Linked DNA regions of Homo sapiens. The protein of the gene in region 3 interacts with the protein of the main gene of each other region in a pairwise test. Each region holds a gene or a part of one and is shown on either strand. Other genes may lie near its edges. The genes, in order: SPOCK2, MAGI3 and PLXNB3.

The links.
Region 1: the proteins of PLXNB3 (region 3) and SPOCK2 interact in a two-hybrid assay, tested with the Homo sapiens proteins (one study listed by BioGRID and IntAct).
Region 2: the proteins of PLXNB3 (region 3) and MAGI3 interact in a two-hybrid assay, tested with the Homo sapiens proteins (one study listed by BioGRID and IntAct).

Annotation. Positions count from the first base shown.
Region 1 is NC_000010.11:72,067,903-72,071,647, reverse strand, and holds part of SPOCK2 (testican-2 isoform 2 precursor), read left to right. Parts: intron 1-1,221; coding exon 1,222-1,336; intron 1,337-3,346; coding exon 3,347-3,461; intron 3,462-3,745. UniProt on the Homo sapiens protein: May participate in diverse steps of neurogenesis. Binds calcium.
Region 2 is NC_000001.11:113,680,370-113,684,114, reverse strand, and holds part of MAGI3 (membrane-associated guanylate kinase, WW and PDZ domain-containing protein 3), read right to left. Parts: intron 2,918-3,745; coding exon 2,779-2,917; intron 1,932-2,778; coding exon of another isoform or gene 1,822-1,931; exon of another isoform or gene 1,219-1,821; coding exon 101-1,218; 3' UTR 1-100.
Region 3 is NC_000023.11:153,767,249-153,770,993, forward strand, and holds part of PLXNB3 (plexin-B3 isoform 1 precursor), read left to right. Parts: coding exon 1-665; intron 666-1,000; coding exon 1,001-1,180; intron 1,181-1,699; coding exon 1,700-1,828; intron 1,829-1,913; coding exon 1,914-2,014; intron 2,015-2,558; coding exon 2,559-2,691; intron 2,692-2,843; coding exon 2,844-3,000; intron 3,001-3,089; coding exon 3,090-3,198; intron 3,199-3,279; coding exon 3,280-3,394; intron 3,395-3,509; coding exon 3,510-3,635; intron 3,636-3,716; coding exon 3,717-3,745. UniProt on the Homo sapiens protein: Receptor for SEMA5A that plays a role in axon guidance, invasive growth and cell migration. Stimulates neurite outgrowth and mediates Ca(2+)/Mg(2+)-dependent cell aggregation.

The DNA.
Region 1 (3,745 bases), on a different chromosome or scaffold from region 3:
GTAGTATCTCTAAGACAAATAGGTTAGACCATATAATTTGAGGTTCCTTTCAGCTCTGACATGCAGTGACTTCATGAAATATTTAAGGTGGTAGCTTGTGAGAGGTTGTAGCTTGCAGAGGAGAAAGGAGTGAGGGACATTTAAGGAAGCCTTAGCTCCAGCTGGGTGCAGTGGCTCCTGCCTGTAATCCCAGCACTTTGGGAAGCCAAGGCGGGTGGATCACCTAAGGTCAGGAGTTTGAGACCAGCCTGACCAATGTGGTGAAACCCCATCTCTACTGAAAATACAAAATTAGCTGGGCATGGTCGCTTGTGCCTGTAGTCCCAGATACTCGTGTGGCTGAGACAGGAGAATTGCTTGAACCTGGGAGGCGGAGGTTGCAGTGAGCCGAGATCACGCCACTGCACTCCAGCCTGGGTGACAGAGTGAGACTCCGTCTCAAAAAAAAAAAACACAACAAAACAAACAAAAAAAGGAAGTCTTAGCTCCAGCCCAAGGACAAGGCTCTGCCTGGCTCCAAGACCCTGGAAAAGGTTCCAGTTCCCTCCCTTCTTTCCTGAATCATAGAAGATGAAAGATGGGGTTGCAGTCTTAGAAGGCTGCAGGGGCATGGCCGGTAATGTAATGCATGAAGAGTGCTTGGTCACGGGCCACTCTGTGGAGCACAGGTGTGGTGGAAAGCAGGCAGCTGCTTCTTGGCCCTGGTCTATTACAGCTATGTAGGAATGCAGGTCCAGGACTCCCATGCTTCCATTTTTCAAAGACAGGCCAAGAATCCAGGTATTTATGTGAACTCTCCCATTTGGTAAATGTTAGTGCATAAATAACTCAATTAAAAAAAAAAACACTTGGTGGCCAAGTATGGCCCAGAGGTCATCAGTTTGCAACCTCAGATTTGGTCTGACCCCCTAAGTGAAGTGTGACCCCCTTTTACCTCTGGCCTTCAGACCTGGAGTTGCTACCTGAAGGCCCCATGGGACTCAGTGACTCCTAGAAGAAGAGAAGCTGGGGGAATTTATGCCCTGCTCAGTTGGTTCCACCCTTCTGAGCTGGAGGAGGGTCTGGCAGCAGTGTGGGGAGGGTGGGCAGGGGCAGGAAGGGGCTGATCTGCTGAAGATTGCTGCTGCCTTCCTGTTGGAACAGGTCTGCTCAGCCCTCCCTTCCCCTGCTCCTTCCTCATTGTCACTTCCACCCTGGTGTGCCCCCCACCCTCTCCTGTAGGATCAAGCAGCCGACCGTGAAACTCCATGGAAACAAAGACTCCATCTGCAAGCCCTGCCACATGGCCCAGCTTGCCTCTGTCTGCGGCTCAGATGGCCACACTTACAGCTCTGTGGTGAGGAGCCCAGGCCCCAGGTAGGGTGGGGGTGGAGTCACCTGAGGCCACAGGAAGCAGAAAGGATGACCCAGCTGGGGCCTCCGGAGGGGTTTCCAGGACTGAGGTGGGGCCAGATGGCAAGGTCAGTGTGTTCAATGCAGCCAGCCATACTGGGGCCACCTGCAGCCCTGGCTGGAACTACCTGAGAGTTGGAGCCAGACCCTGTCTGTCCCTGACCTCGGACAGGTGCAGGTGGGGAGTGGGGCCTGGAAGAGACACTATGGTCAGGTAACTGCAAGTCAAAGGAACTGAGGGAAGACCTCAGCCAAGTGTGGAGGGCTGTGGAAGAAGGAGCTCTGGCATCCAATTGTTAGTGGGGGAAGAAAGGAGGATTTCCACAGGGAGGCGCCAGTGTTCACCAGTGAGCAGGGGCCTTCTGGGGCAGCAGGAAATAATCCTCCATAAGAAGGTGATGGAAGAAGGAACCGATTGGGAGAATGAATTTGCACCTTATGTGGATTTTTATGAGGATTTCAGGAGACAATATTTGAGAAAGCATTTAAAAAATTTTAGGCTGGTCACGGTGGCTCACGCCTGCAATCCCAGCACTTTGAGAGGCCGAGACGGGTGGATTGCTTGAATCCGGGAGTTTGAGACCAGCCTGGGTAACATAGTGAGACCCTGTCTCTACAAAAAATACAAAAATTAGCTGGGTGCAGTGGCGTGTGCCTGTGATTCCAGCTATCTGAGAGGCTGAGGGGGATGCCAGGAGTTCGAGGCTGTAGTGAGCCATGATTGTACCACTGCACTCCAGCCTGGGTGACAGAGTGAGACCTTGTCTCCAAAAAAAAAAAAAAAAAAGTAACATAGAAATGCAGGTGCTGATAATGAATGTTTTTACTGGCAACAAGGAGTCGGGAATTGCTTGGTTTGGGAGGGCACTGACAGCTGGCTTGGGGTGGGTGCCAGGGCTGAGGGGCCTTCTTGGAGTGAGATGCAGATTTCAGTCACCCGCTGTGGGTGATGATTGACATTGCTGTGGGGATGAGGTCATCCAGGGAGAAGAAAGGGAGGAGAGAGAGAATGAGCAAGAGGCCAGGGCAGAGGCTGCATTTAGGAGGTGAGAGGGGTGCAGGGGAGCTGGCAGAGCTGGCAGAGAGGAGGAGGAGAAGAAGAGGAGCTAGTGTCCCACAACCCAAGGCCAGGGCGAGGTCTGGGCAGGACGCTGCAGTGCGGTCCGGTCCAGGGGTCACGCTGTCCTTTAGGGAGGTGGAGGTCAGCAGGAAGTCTGGCTTTCATCCCGGCTCATGGCCTTGGGCAAGTCACTGGGCCTCTGTGCGCCTTGCTGTTCTCTGCTGAGCAGGAGAAACCCAAGCCTCCCAAGTGAGATAATGTTGTCGAGCGCTGTGATGACCCGCTTCCCATTAGCAGCCGCCCCATGAGAAGAAAGAGATATGACCAGGAGAAAAGGCCCTGGTCAGAACCTGGCTTTAGCAGGCAGCTGTGGCAGAAGCAGTTCTTAGCGAAGGCCGAGGAATTGTTAGATGCTCCATAGGCGGTGCTGTGTCCTATCAGGAGAACTGAGAAAAGTCCACTGGGGTGACTGGGGGGAGATCATTGAGGGAAGGGCTGATGGCTGATTACAGAGGGACCAAGGAACAGGCCATGAGAGCCAGGGGGGCAACAGACAGCTAACACAGGGGAAGGGCGACAGGGGCAGGGGAGGGGTGACAGGGGCAGGGGAGGGGAGACAGGTGTCCTGGGAGGGACAAATCCTTAGAGAGGGCCGAGCAGGCTCATGGGAGCCTGCATGGCTAGGACCAGCTCTGAGCCCTGCTTCCCGGGCCCTGCTTCTCTCCACCGTGCACCTCAGTCTGCAGAGGAACCAAGAGGACCCTTCAGGCTGTTCATGGGCACTCCATGGGGGGAGGCAGATGTGGCTGCCATGAGAGGCTTGAGGGTGTCCCCAGCTGTGGGGACCCCTGGGGTAAGCCCTCAGTCCCCTGTTCCACCTTTCCCCATGTGCAGTGTAAGCTGGAGCAACAGGCGTGCCTGAGCAGCAAGCAGCTGGCGGTGCGATGCGAGGGCCCCTGCCCCTGCCCCACGGAGCAGGCTGCCACCTCCACCGCCGATGGCAAACCAGGTGAGGACAGTGCTGGGCCACCAGGCTAGGGGTGCTGAAGGGCCACCTGGCACCTCCTTCAGGGCTCTAGGGTGGTAGAAGAGGTGTGCAGAGCAAGAGGGAAGTGGCAAAAATGCAGAAAGCTTGAGGGAGCTGTGAGGTCAGAGGCCCAGATTAACACAGAGCAGGAGGCGTGGGCTCAGCCCTCGTTTCTCCCCTGGGTGCCTGGAAGGTGGGCAGAGGGAGGGACTCAGCCACAAGGAACCTGGGCTGTGTGTTTTTCATGCCAGGAAGGAGTGGGTGGT
Region 2 (3,745 bases), on a different chromosome or scaffold from region 3:
TCTGTTTCAGAATATCTGAAAAAAAAAAAAAGGCTTTTTCTGGAAAAATGCTGCTGTAAGAAAAGATTACAACTTGTTTTTCTTTGTTTTATACTAAAGGTTACTGCCGTTTCTCAGCCATACCAATAGTGCCTGTGACTTTATTTCCACTTGGAACCTTCCAGGGCCCTGGAGTTATCAGTGTTTTCTTAACTGGAGAACTGCTTTCCGGTTTGAACCTTCCAGTCTCTTTGTTTTTGTCAGCTGCCTCTAGTTCTTTCCCTTTGTGATCTTCTGTTTTGTTTGAAACTACCTTCTCTTCAGGTTCTTGCTTCAGCCTCTTTTCTGATAGCTGGACATTTTCTCCTATTTTATCGTTACTAGAACTTGTTTCTCCTGTGGTTACTTTCTTTCCTTTTTCATTTTCAGATACTTCTTTACTTGTAGTCTTATTAGTCATTTTGGATGGAAGAGATTTCTCAACCATTCTTTTGATTTTTTTCTCTGGAGACCTTGTTCTGCTTTTTTCCAACTGATTCTGCTTTGCATCTTTCCTGATGACGTCTGATTTTTCCTTCCCATCTGGGATCTGCTCAGCATTACTGCCCGTATAGCCTGCTATTCTTCGACTCTTACCCTCTAATAATTTGGCCTCAGCATTTGATGGAGCTTTGCTTCCTTCAATTTTTTGCTGCTTTTTTGGGCTGGCCGACCGACCTCTGCTTTTTCTGCACTGATCTTGTCCAGAGCCTGCCCTGGTGCTGACCTGACAACTTTTATTTTCCCCTTTGCTGGGGCTGAGGGATTGATCTCTGGGTCTTCTTTTGGGGTTATTTTTTAGAGGACTAGGAATCTTATCCAAATGTTCCTCTGAATGTTGACTGGCTGGCTTTTTGGGACTAACCGATCTACCTCTTCGTGTAACACCATTTTCTACTTTTAATAGATTTTTCTTGTTACTGTGCCCATGACTGCTGGGTGGATCCCTCTTACTCACATTTTTCTGGAGAAGAGACTGATGCTTTATCTCAGGCTGATTTTCATTTAAAGTGCTTTTCTTTTCAGGCACAATGTCCTTTAATTCTTCTGCCTTTTCACATATCTGAACTCTCAAAGATTCTTCAATTACTGGCACGTGAGACTCTTCAAATATGGAAGCAAAATGTGAAGATGGGGGTAATGGTGACTGTTCATCATAAATCACATTTGAAGACGAAGGATTATTAATATCCCAATCACCTAAAAAAGTGATTTGAATGGAACATTATTAAATTTTAGAATTACAAATAGGAACAATACGTTTTGAACTTTGACAGCCATTTGAATTGTCGTAACTGCTTAAAAAGCCTGAGTATTTTATACAGTTTGTATATGTTTACAACATATCTCTCTATAAAGGCGGATGTGTACAGACATCTGTTCATACATGAAGGATGGGTTGTTTATATACACAAAATAATATTCATTTTTTCCAATTACATATAATTAGTGAGATAATATATGATCTGTAAATTCTCTATTAGTAAAGCCCAATTAGAACTTACAAGTTATAAAGCTGAACCAAATTACGTGGCCCAAGAAGCTCACTAATTATTATGAATTGATACAGTTTAGGATATGGCAAAATCACTAATTAATAAAGGAAACCAAACTGTGGTAACCAGAATGAGGCTCATGGGCATTTGTAATAATTCTCTTGCATTAAGCTGTCAAATTTAATGTCAAAAGAAGACTGAAAAGTGCAGAAGATAGAAATAGATGTATTTAATAGCATCATTTTTAATTTAAAAGAAAACAAAAGAAGAAAGTGATTTACAAGACATGCAAATTTACCAAGTCTTTTTAAGGAAAGACCAAGAAAAGCCCTGAAAGCCTTAATGTTGCTCGGGTTTCACGTAGGAGCACAGACCGGAAGGAGCCAAACCTGAAGAGGGAAGAGAAAAAGCCTAGGACTATGTGAAAAAAAAAAAAAAAATCAGTGCAGTTAGCAAAGATGTCACTGGGAACATATGATTTACAAGCAGATGGTGGAAGATAATACAGTCAGAGAATCATAAGCTGGAAGGGTACTGTAGGAGGTTATGTCTACACTTATCCCTCAAAAGCGGTGGGGTGGGGTGGGGTAGGGCAGGAGGTGGGGAGCTAGATGAGGCAAGTACTGCGTGGGTGTGGTACTGCCTTTATTTCTAGAATAGTGCACTCAAAAAACAGTGACTTTCAAATACCATGATATTTCAAAACATGCCATGGAAACCCAGGAAGTTTAACATTAATACAGGACAGAAATGGTCTCAGGTCCAACTCCCTGTCTCCAGGTAGGGTGATAGCAACTTGTTTTTGCCGAGTCACCAGAAAAGCCTAAGTTTTCATGCTGCGCATTCATTATAATATAAACTTATCTTGCTTTACAGAAATAAAAATATTGGTTGGTAATGTGTAATTAGCTAAGTAAGAGAAAAAGCTGGGATATTTTGAAGAGATTTAAAACATTTTTTATGGTATTTAAATTGTTTGCCTCTAATACACTTTTTTAATAGGTACATTTCTCTACAAAAACAACTATATGTTTTTTCTGATTAAATTTAAAATACATTCCATTCCAACGAAAGTCCTGCCTAAGTCACTTGTTTTCTAATACTATTTATGATAACTCTGCTATGTAACTAGCTTTTCATGGTTCTAGCATTCACCTCTGAATTAACTAGTAAAATATCTATCCTCTCCAAATATATATTCCTTTTTCTTCTGTCCCCTCCCTAATATACAACTTTTCAGCTACTAGTGGGCTACTTTACTTACCATGGTCAGGTATCAAGCCAGTTCCTGGCCTCAAAAGAAGAAGAACTTTATTTCCACCAGCCTGAATGAGCTCAATTGCTCGAGTATGTGTGATTCCTTGTGTAGGTTCCCCATTGATTTCAACAATCTGGTCACCAACCTAGACAGAGAACATTCACAGGAACAACATGAAACTATGCATCCTTTGTAAATTCTGCTTTTGTCAGCTCTTGAGCCATTCAACCTTGCTAAGTGATTCTTTCGTTTGTAAAATACCTAACGTGTACCCAGTACTGCCATGTGAGAGTTGATGAGAGGACAGATGACAACAAACAACAGGAAGTGGCAATGTTCAGGTTTACTCACAAAAATCCTACACAGGAAAGTTTTATATGGCTACTAACTAAGATCTGGACATCTTGAAATCAAGAATCAAATTCTAGAATCAGATTTGGAATTTTCTAAATTTATAGAAATCAAATTTAGAATGTTAATCAAATTCTAGAATTTGGTTCTTGATTTGAAGATGCCCAGATCTTTAATAGCCATATAAAACTTTCCTGTGTAGGATTTTTTGTTTGTTTGTTTTGTTTTGCTTTTTGAGACGGAGTCTTGCTCTGTCGCCCAGGCTGGAGTGCAGTGGCGAGACCTCGGCTCACTGCAAGCTCCGCCTCCTGGGTTCACGCCATTCTACTACCTCAGCCTCCCGAGTAGTTGGGACTACAGGCGCCCGCCACCACGCCCGGCTAATTTTTTGTATTTTTAGTAGAGATGGGGTTTCACCGTGTTAGCCAGGATGGTCTCGATCTCCTGACCTCGTGATCCGCCCGCCTCAGCCTCCTAAAGTGCTGGGATTACAGGCGTGAGCCACCGCGCCCGGCCCTGTGTAGGATTTTCATAAGTAAACCTGGGCACTTGCTGTGTAGGGTTTTTATGCGTGAGTAAACCTGGACATTGTCTCTTCCTGTTGCTGCCATCTGTCCTCTTA
Region 3 (3,745 bases):
AGACACGGCGCCTTGGGGATGTGGCCGAGGTGCTGTACCAGGCTGAGGACCCTGGTGACGGGCAGTTTGTGGCTGCCAATACCCCGGGAGTGGCAACGGTGGGGCTGGTGGTGCCCTTGCCCGGCCGGGACCTCCTGCTTGTGGCCAGAGGCCTGGCGGGCAAGCTGTCGGCAGGGGTGCCACCCCTGGCCATCCGCCAGCTGGCCGGGTCTCAGCCCTTCTCCAGCGAGGGCCTGGGCCGCCTGGTGGTGGGCGACTTCTCCGACTACAACAACAGCTACGTCGGGGCCTTTGCCGACGCCCGCTCCGCCTACTTCGTGTTCCGCCGCCGCGGGGCCCGGGCCCAGGCTGAGTACCGCTCCTACGTGGCCCGCGTCTGCCTGGGGGACACCAACCTGTACTCCTACGTGGAGGTCCCCCTCGCCTGCCAGGGCCAGGGCCTCATCCAGGCCGCCTTCCTTGCCCCGGGCACCTTGCTAGGGGTGTTTGCCGCGGGCCCAAGGGGCACCCAGGCGGCGCTCTGTGCCTTCCCCATGGTGGAGCTGGGTGCCAGCATGGAGCAGGCCCGGAGACTCTGCTACACGGCGGGCGGCCGGGGCCCCAGCGGCGCAGAGGAAGCCACCGTGGAGTACGGCGTCACGTCGCGCTGCGTCACCCTGCCCCTTGTGAGTGGCATGCCCTTCCATCCCCCCTCTCTGTGGATGGCTGGCATCTTTCAGCACTGGACAGGGGTGCCTGCCCATGGGAAGTGCCAGCCAACCTCTCAGCCAGGGGTCAGCTGAGTCTCCAGGTCTCCTGCCTGCTCTCCACCCATTTCTTTCCACCTTTCTCCCTCTGGATGCTATGAGCTTGCCAGGTGCCCTGGCCCTTCGGCCCTGATTGCTGGGCCTTGGGGTCATCCCAGGGTGCCTGGCTCTCCTCCCGCTGGCAGCCTGGGTACCCCCCCTGACTGCCTCTCTGCTCTCTTCCGGGGGCTGATTCTCCACTTCCTGCCACGTAGGATTCCCCCGAGTCGTACCCCTGTGGCGACGAGCACACCCCCAGCCCCATTGCTGGCCGCCAGCCCCTGGAGGTCCAGCCTCTGCTGAAGCTCGGGCAGCCGGTCAGCGCCGTGGCAGCTCTCCAGGCAGATGGGCACATGATAGCCTTCCTGGGGGACACCCAGGGCCAGCTGTACAAGGTGAGGGCCCGGCCTTGCTGTCCGGCTGGGTGTGCCCCTGGCCACGGAGGCTCAGGAAAGCCCCCAGCAACTTCCACCTCTTAGCCCGCATCCCACGGTTGGGTCAGGGGACTTTGCCACACAGTGACTGCTGGCTGAGCACTGCCCCCTGCAGCCCGGCCTTCACCAGCTGGTGGTGGCTCACGGTGAAGGTGGCTGGGGTGGCTGGGTGAGGTGGGCAGGGTGTGGTGCCTCCTGGTGACCTTCCTGTCTCCCCATAGCTGCCCTCCCACCTGGCAGAACTGTCCCTGGTACACGGGGCCTCACCCAGGGTGCCGCTGCTGCCCCGGTGTCATGGTTCCCTGGAGAGTGTCCTAGGCCTGAGGGTGCTGAGTGGGGGAAGTGATGTGTCCTCCCTCGATGGCCCGGCAGGAAGGGGAACTGGCTCTAAAAAGGAGCCCCCACTAGGAGGAGGGCGTGTCCCTGGAACAGGCAACCTTTGGCCATCTGGCCCAGCCTCGTCCTTGTCCCCCCACTCAGGTCTTTCTCCACGGCTCCCAGGGCCAGGTTTACCACTCCCAGCAAGTGGGGCCTCCAGGCTCAGCCATCAGCCCAGACCTGCTGCTGGACAGCAGTGGCAGTCACCTCTATGTCCTGACTGCCCACCAGGTGAGGGCCATCCTGGGGCTGAAGGGGCCAGCACACGCGGCCCAAGTCTCGTGCCCATTGCCTCTCTGCTCTGCTGCCCCTCCAGGTGGACCGGATACCTGTGGCAGCCTGCCCCCAGTTCCCTGACTGTGCCAGCTGCCTCCAGGCCCAGGACCCGCTGTGTGGCTGGTGTGTCCTCCAGGGCAGGTGAGCACGGGGCCTGTGCCTAGGCTAGGGCCAACGGGTGGTGTGTGCCACGAGGCTGCCCCTGGAAGTAGCCCTAGGCGTGCCGGGAGGCCAACCCTGCCTGTTGGAGAGACTCAGGGCCACCACGGAGGTCACCCATCCTGCCCCATCTCACTGAGCCGTCAATCTGGTTGGCACCCCCCTTTTCCGACACCACCCGGCCTGTGGACTCCTCATCCCAGCAGCCCCAGCCAGGGTCCAGAACCCCACACAGCTGTCCTCCAGCCGGTGCTCCACACGGCAGCCCCTGGAATCCTTTAAGGCAGCCCTGAGTCACTGTGCGTCCCTCAGCCCAGCCGCACCTGCCTCTCAGGGCTGGAGCCCACGCCTTGGCCATGAGGCCCTGCCTGCTTGGCCCCTTTCTCTCTGGACACAGTCCCCTTCACGCCTCCTGCTCATTGCACCCCACTGCACTCCAGCTGGGCCGGCCTCCCCAGGCCCCTGTTGCCGGTCATCCTTGGAGTCTAGGACCCCCACGGTGACCTGATGGACCCCTGCCTGGCAGGTGTACCCGGAAGGGCCAGTGCGGGCGGGCAGGCCAGCTGAACCAGTGGCTGTGGAGTTATGAGGAGGACAGCCACTGCCTGCACATCCAGAGCCTGCTGCCGGGCCACCACCCCCGCCAGGAGCAGGGCCAGGTAAGCCGCCCACCACCACTGGGCCCTCTGGGCAGCATGACCACTGCCTGGAGCATGAACCCCGCCTGCCTCCCGTCCTCCTTCCTCTCCCATGGCCTCTGCTGCCCCCTCTCTCTGGCTACATCTCCCGGTTTCTCCCCGCTGCATCCCAGGTCACTTTGTCTGTCCCCCGGCTGCCCATCCTGGATGCAGATGAATACTTCCATTGTGCGTTCGGGGACTATGACAGCTTGGCTCATGTGGAAGGGCCCCACGTGGCCTGTGTCACCCCTCCCCAAGACCAGGTGCCACTTAACCCTCCAGGCACAGGTGAGTGGCCCATGGGGTAGGGGGCTGGGATGGAGGCTGGAGGGGTAATGAGCCACCTGACCTGTCCTGCCCCCACTGTCCCCTCCCAGACCACGTCACTGTGCCCCTGGCCCTGATGTTCGAGGACGTGACTGTGGCTGCCACCAACTTCTCCTTTTATGACTGCAGTGCCGTCCAGGCCTTGGAGGCGGCTGCCCCGTGAGTCCCTGGGCCTGCCTCCTGGGGTAGGGGTGGCGACCCCAGAGGGCACTCAGTTGAGCAGCCACCCTGCCCCTCTAGGTGTCGCGCTTGCGTGGGCAGCATCTGGCGGTGTCACTGGTGCCCGCAGAGTAGCCACTGCGTGTACGGAGAGCACTGCCCAGAGGGCGAGAGGACCATCTACAGCGCCCAGGAGGTGGGTGGGCCCGAACTTCGGGCAGAGACAGGGCTGTCCCTTCTCCACCCTTCCCAGACCCGCCCAGCAGTAGGCCCTTTGAGTTCTGAAGGGCTGAGGGCTCTTGTTTTCCCAGGTGGACATCCAGGTGCGTGGCCCAGGGGCTTGCCCACAGGTCGAAGGCCTGGCAGGTCCCCACCTGGTGCCTGTGGGCTGGGAGAGCCATTTGGCCCTACGCGTGCGGAACCTTCAACATTTCCGAGTGAGCCATCAGGAGGGAAGGGGACAGGGCAGTGAGGTCTGCCAACAGCGTGTCCACACTCCTGACAGCGTCCTTCCCCAGGGCCTGCCTGCCTCCTTCCACTGCTGGCT